2 linked regions of the Homo sapiens genome follow. The protein of the gene in region 1 purifies or fractionates together with the protein of each later gene. This does not show direct contact. Each region holds a gene or a part of one and is shown on either strand. Other genes may lie near its edges.

Region 1 (3,653 bases):
GGCATGCACCTATAATTCCAGCTACTCAGGAGGCTGAGGTGGGAAGATCACTTGAGTCTTGGAGGCTGAGGCTGCAGTGAGCTGTGATCGCACCATTGCACCGCTGCACTCCAGCCTGGAGGGTCCAGCAAGACTCTGTCTCAAAAAAAAGAAAAAAAGTAAAAGAAAGCTCGGCATGGTGGCTCACGCCTGTAATCCTAGCACTTGGGGAGGCTGAGGTGGACGGATCACGAGGTCAGGAGTTTGAGACCAGCCTGACCAACATGGTGAAACCCCATCTCTACTAAAAATACAAAATTAGGGTCAGGCACGGTGGCTCATGCCTGTAATCCCAACACTTTTGGAGGCCGAGGCAGGTGGATCACGAGGTCAGGAGATCGAGACCATCCTGGCTAACACGGTGAAACCCCATCTCTACTAAAAGTACAAAAAATTAGCCAGGCGTGGTGGCACGCGCCTGTAGTCCCAGCTACTCGGGAGGCTGAGGCAGGAAAATCGCTTGAACCTAGGAGGCAGAGGTTGCAGTGAGCTGAGATGGCGCCACTGTACTCCAGCCTGGCAGAGTGAGACCCCATCTCAAAATAAATAAATAAATACATACACACATACAAAAACGTGCTAGGCGTGGTGGCGTGCACCTGTAATCCCAGCTACTCAGGAGGCTGAGGCAGGAGAATCGCTTGAACCTGGGAGGCAGAGGTTGCAGTGAGCAGAGATCGTGCCACTGCACTCCAGCCTGGGCGACAGAGCGAAACTCCATCTCAAAAAGGAAAAAGAAAAGAAAAGAAAGTGAGCAAATAATATGAACAATAAAAATAAATATTAAAATGACCCTTAAACATATGAAAACATGTTCAATTCACTTGTAATAGAAGTACAAATGGAAAATACACTGAGATACAATTTCTTACCTATTAGATCAGCACAAATTCAAAAGCTGACAAAACACTGCTGGTGAGGCTGTGAGGAAATAAGCACTCTACTCTCATACACTGCTGGTAGGAATGCAAAATAGTATAACCCCACAGGATGAGGAGTTTGACAGTACCTAACAACTCTACATATGCATTTATCCTGAAGATGTATCTCTCCAACAATACAAAGATACATGTACACAAAGTTTTTCACTGTAACATCATTTGTAATTGCAAAATATTAGATATTACTTAAATGTTCAAACAGGACATTAGTCGAGAAAACTATGGTACATACACGATAGCAGTTAAGAATGAAAGTTACTGATTTTAGTTTATGTATTTTATCTTTTCACACAGCTACTGACTTGTTAGGAGATACATACTTATTAAGTTGTTCAGACCTAATTACTTAATAAATTAAACTGGCCAGGCATGGTTGCTGACGCCTGTAATCCCAGCACTTTGGGAGGCTGAGGCACATGGCTCACGAGGTCAGGAGTTCGAGACCAGCCTGGCCAGCATGGTGAAACCCCGTCTCTACTAAAAATACAAAAAATTAGCCAGGCATGGTGCCGCGTGCCTGTAATCCCAGCTACTCGGGAGGCTGAGGCAGGAGAATTGCTTGAACCTGGGAGGTGGAGGCGGCAGTGAGCCGAAATCGCGCCACTGCACTCCAGCACGGGTGAAAGAGCGAGACTCCGTCTCAAAAAACAAAAAACAAAAAAATTAAACTGTTAGGTGTTTCTTTTGACCTAGGGATGCTGTGAAAAAAATTACTGCGATAATAAGGGTGCCATGAATTGAGAAAGTTTGGGCACTTGACTGATAAAGGCCTACGAAGAAGGCCTTTAAGAGAGAGAAAGAATGTGTGTGTGTGTGTGTGTGTGTGTGTGTGTGTGTGTAGTTATGAGGTTACTGTGGACTGCTGTCAACAAAATTTACAATAGGCTAATGAAAGTACTCTCTCCAGTGTAGTTAAGAGCTGTAACAGATATTATGACAGCACATAAGAGAAGCAATCAGCCCAGTCTTAAAGGTTTTTTGTTTTTTGTTTTTTGAGGGATGGGATCCAGAGAGAGAACCTAATTGTAATTTTTTGGAGAATTATAACCTAAACTGAGTTCTGAAGGACCAGTAGGAGTATACTAGATTAGGGGAAGGAAGAGAGGCTAGAATTCCAGGAAGAGGAAATGGAGGACTGAGTAAACAAACACTAGCATTCCAGAAGCTGGGTATTGGTAGAACAAAAGATCATCCAAGAAGAGAGATAAGGCTAAAGGGTTAGGTAAGAAAAAAAATGAAAAATATGAAAGATAAAGGGGAAAAAAGAGAGTTAGGTAAGGAGCACATCTTGAAGGTTTTGTATATGAGATTAAGGATAAATGGAGTTTGAATTTTATTAATGGGCAAAAAAGAGCCACAAGAGGATTTTAAGCAGAGAAATATCACCATTGTTCTAAGCAAGAATGGGAAAAGTATCAGATGGGTTCCAACCATAGGCTAGAAGGCTGCTGTAGTAATCCAGAATATCTAGACAGGGCAGCTGAACTCAGTGTTTGGTCACGCAGTGTGGCAACCTCCACTTTTAATGGAGTACTATGTTAGCTTCTCAACTACATAAGAAAACAGATCCTGTGGCTTAGATGACCATAATCATAACTTTTGGAAACTGGGGGATCTTTGCCCACCTTCCCAATAAATCTGGGAGTATACGCCATTTTATAATCTAACTATGTCTTATTGTCCAAAATAACATTACCAAACCCTGACATTTAGTTTCAAAAGTAAATTCAGCAATAAAATTGGATCCCAGACTTTAAGGAGACTATGTATGTCAGTGTTACATCTATTGCATCTAATATAGGACCCTAGCTGTGAAGGCCTTTAAGAATAGTATAATTTTATGGAAGCATGCCTTTTTTGGCTTGTAAAGACTACCCTCTTGACTTTCAGAAACTAAGTCATCACCTTCACGTATAATTAAATCAAAGATGCAAATTCTCACCTAAAATTTACTCATACATATTTTAGAAACCCATAGAACTTTAATTTCTTTTTTTCTATACGGCAACCCAAATCCTTATGAATGCGATAAGGTAATAAGAAAGATGTCTTAAAGAAAAAACAGAATAACTGTTACTTATGGGGGCCAGACAATCAGCTGTTTTTTACTTAAGGGTACATCTTTTAAAAAAAAAAAAGAGAGAGAGAGAGAGATGGACACATTCTTCAAATTAAGCCTATTTAAAAGTGCATTTTAAAAAGTGCACAGGCTTAGGAGGGAAGAGAATTCTACCAGCACTGAATAGCAGCTAAACCCTTACAAGACTTCTGCCACTTTTAAGCCTCCATCTTAAACCCAGAGAAAATGATTAATGGTCTCAAACGGTTAAAAACAGACCAAGCACATCTCTGCTTCTTTTACCATTCTTTCTACTGTCCCCCATAGCTTCTCCCCCATTTCCATTAGTGAAAGAACGAACTAAAAAAAATGTGATTTCAAGGAAAGGTCACTACAAATAGATTTATGGTATTCCTCTCAAATAGGGACGATTCTGTTACTTTAAAAAGCACTAATCAAACACCAGAATTGAGTCCAAATACTTTACCGGGACACCCACGGGAAAAATGCCCAACCATTTTTCCATCATGGCACACATGGACGGTGATAACACTGTATTTGTAGGCACGCTGAAGATAAAAGAGAAGAATGGCTGCTGCTTGAGGCCACCTGGC
Region 2 (3,653 bases), on another chromosome or scaffold:
AGATACAACCCAAACGCAGACTTGGCATCGGATGACCCCACGGAGTCACCGTGCATGTGTCTCTGACTTGATGGCACTGCAGTGGCTTCAGAGAGGGTCGCAAATACCATGCCACAGCGCCCGGGGTTTGCCTGAAGGTACTTCAGCAGAGAGAGTGGAATGGGCAGGGGAGAACAGATTAGGCAAGGGGGCTTTGGAGGGGATGGCTTCTGGACTGCACGATGGGTGAACACAGTTTTTTAAACTCTTTTCCACATCTGTATAGGTTTGAAAATTATCAACAACTCATGGGGAGGGTGGCGTGCCAGGTCATGGCTGCCTGGAGCCCTTCTGAGGAGGGCCGGCTCAGCCGAGGACGCCCTCCCCACTACGAAGTAGGCACTGCGGCAGGAGTCGCCACCCCCACCCCAAGGAAGTTCAGAACAGGCAACAGGAGGAGCCTGACTCCAACAGAGTTGGTGTCATCCGGCGCATCGCTAAGGACGTCACAACACATCAGCTCTGGGAGCCCAAGGGGGTGTGTGGTCCACTCAAGGGGAAGATGATCCAGAAGCTCCGCTCCCTCCCTTTGCTTTTGAAGAACACAGGAGTGACACGTGGGGAATCTACCGGCTTAATTTCTTCTTAGTAACAGGCATAGTAGGATCAAAAAATTTTTGCTTCTAATTTTTAAAAACATTCAATGTGTACATTAGCACACTGGCAGAAAGACATACCTGCTTAGGAAAGAATTCATCTGCTGAAGACATAAAACTAGTACCTTTGTTTTCAAATCTTCACTTATCTGAGCAGCAACTTGAAGATTCTGTTCAAACATCTAAAAATCAGAGAACTTATGAATTCTGGTATAATCTTACAGGAGTATACTAAGAGTGCAGGTTTGCTGTTATATGAAACCTCCATCTGCTAACTGGCATTTAGGATAGTCCAAATTCAGAGAAAAAAAAAATGAAACCACGTGAAAAATAACAAAGTTAGTTTAAAAAAAAAAAAAACAACTTTCTCACCTGGGAAAGTACCAAGTGACTCATTTCTTAATTCCTGGCAAACTGGTTTCTCCCACGGGGGCCATGTCTGTCCTCACACTACGTGACTGGAGTTTTAATGTGTGGAGTGAGGCCCCACCCGGGATGGCGCCCCTCAGGCACCTGACTCACCCTCCCTGGCCCCATGACTGTCATGATGCAGAGTTCCTAAGAATCTGGACCTGGGGTGTGCCAGGCCCTGCCAGGAGCTGACCCAGGCAGAGGAAGGGCAAGGGGACAGAGCTCTCCTCACAGTTTCTCACGGCATCTGTTTCCAAACAAAGGAAAGGGTTTGGACTAGCCTGTCAATAACTAACGGTATCATTCAGAGAGAAATGTCACCCGCCAGCCCTCACTCCTGCCTAACTAGAGTCCTGAGTGAGGATTCTAACACAACGGGGCTCCATCCCTCAGCAATGCCACTCAAATTAAAACACATGATGTGCCAAAAGAAAAAAAGAGCAGGAAAAACGGGACACAGGGCGGTCGGACACTGGAAAGTGAATCCGTGGTAAGAACACACCGGTTCTAACACCTAGTGAGGCTTGGGCGTTGGAAAGTGAATCCGTGGTAAAAATGCAGGTCGGTCTAATACTTAGAACCTTAACCAATGAACAGGAAAGCAACTTTAAAAGCTAATGGACGCCTTGACCCAGGAGGTAGAGATTGCAGTAAGCCAAGATTGTGCTACCGCACTCCAGCCTGGGCAACAGAGTGAGACTCCGTCTCAAAAAAAATAATGGACGCTCCCAAAATCCACCTGTTTAAACTCAATCATGTGCCATTTTTTAGGACAAATCCTGGATATCGACCAAACAAACTCACATTTGAAAGTCGCACATAAATAACATACAATTAGGCTGTAGTCCAAACCCATAAAGACCAGGTCAGAAAAGTAAAGTGACCTTGGGCAAAACTATTTGGTAAGTATCATCCCAGGTTTCTGCAGCTCCAGAGAGTAAGAGACAGAGAGAGGAGAGGACTTAGATGCACCAGGCAGGGCTCTCAATATTTTTACTACACTCTGTGGATGAAGATCCCAGGTATCTGTGTCACTTTGTAAAACCTACAGGTCCCACTATCCACCTAGGAAACGGAACTGTGCCAGTCCCCTGCAGGTGGTACCTGGAAGACAATGGCAGGGAGTGTGGTCTGGTAGTACCCGTCCTGGTCGGCTTCTGGCTCTGTCTCTTTGACCCAGTCTTTCTTGTCTGTCTCCAGCGCTTTCCGCAGCCAGGCGATGATGTTTGACTAAAGAAAGTTCAGCATCATGGAGAAGAGAAGAGAGAAGAGCAGGTGCCTGAGGGTCATGCCAATTACCTGGTCAGTTGCATGCACAAGCTCCACAAACCAGACACAGGGCACCAGCGTCCTCTTTCTCAAATGAGGACTCCAGAGCAGGGACCCAGGAGCCACCCCCATGGGAGGCAGTGACCACAGCAGCCCGCAGGGGTTTAACTGGAACCCTTGGTACAGATAAAGAGGGAGAAGAAACTAGATGCCCTTTTGGCTGCACCTCATGCTGGAGGACAAGGCCGCTGAATCCCAGGTGCACAGAGAATGAGGCCGACCAGGTCCGGTCAGGCCTGTTCCCATGCCCAGACTCAGCAACCACAGCAGCTCACGTCCCAAGAGAAGACAGCGCTCCTTCCCCAGCTCCTGAGGACACCTCGGCTTCTGGTCATAATGCTGCCTTGCTAGGTGGACGCACCCTTGTCTAAGAAGCAGACCCTGCTGACCTCCTCTTCTCACTCTGAGACCACCTGGTGGTCACCAGGCTGCAAATGGACTCGCCCTTTGGTCCTTGACGGACCCCCCCAACCATGGGACTCAGAGCCGAGAGCCTGGCAGGTGCTGCCACACACGGTTCAGACGTTCTGGGCCCTGGCCAGCCTGCCGAGTAGGGCACAGGCTCACGTCTCCAGCAGAGGACAAGCTTCAGATCCAGGCCCAGAGAAGGGGCCATTCTCCTCTTCTAGCAAACTGACCTGTCAAGGCCTGGAAGCAGAGCCCGGGCAACTGAGCAATGCATCCTAGGAAGTCAACGCTAAGGCATTTCCCCCCTGCCTCCTGCCTGCTGCCAAGCCCTAGTTACTCATATAACCAGCACGGTGGTCTGTGGCACGCAGGCCAGCCCTACTCACAGTGAGCGTGGACATGTACGTGTCAAGCAGCTCAGAGACCACGTGTGGAGAAAGCAATGGCTCCAGGGTGCCGACATCCACTTCCGGGGCCAGCTCCACGTTCCTCATCATCTCAGTACTATGGGGGAACCAGGAATGTGAGTGACAAACCACGACAGACACAGAAGAGCATGCCCAAGTGTGCCGAGACTGTTTCACTTGACACATGAATGTCCACCACCCTGGAGACTTCCTGGTCACAGCCGGCCCACAGCTCAGGGGAAAGTGCAGGGCAGGGGCCGAGGGCTTTGGGGTCTCTGTGGCATCACCCCACTGGCTCCCAGACTGCGTGAGTCCCTCCAACCGGGGAAAGTGCAGGGCAGGGGCCGAGGGCTTTGGGGTCTCTGTGGCATCACCCACTGGCTCCGAGACCACTTGAGTCCCTCCAACCCCAGCTTCACCCTGCTGCGCCAGCTTCATGAGGTGCTGGGGCTCAAATGTGGAA

Evidence for each region.
Region 2: the proteins of RALA (region 1) and EXOC3 purify together in Homo sapiens (affinity purification with western blotting; one study listed by BioGRID). This does not show direct contact.

The regions. Positions count from the first base shown.
Region 1 is NC_000007.14:39,626,543-39,630,195, reverse strand, and holds part of RALA (ras-related protein Ral-A precursor), read right to left. Parts: intron 1-3,653. UniProt on the Homo sapiens protein: Multifunctional GTPase involved in a variety of cellular processes including gene expression, cell migration, cell proliferation, oncogenic transformation and membrane trafficking.
Region 2 is NC_000005.10:456,523-460,175, reverse strand, and holds part of EXOC3 (exocyst complex component 3), read right to left. Parts: intron 3,288-3,653; coding exon 3,170-3,287; intron 2,277-3,169; coding exon 2,151-2,276; intron 818-2,150; coding exon 717-817; intron 1-716. UniProt on the Homo sapiens protein: Component of the exocyst complex involved in the docking of exocytic vesicles with fusion sites on the plasma membrane.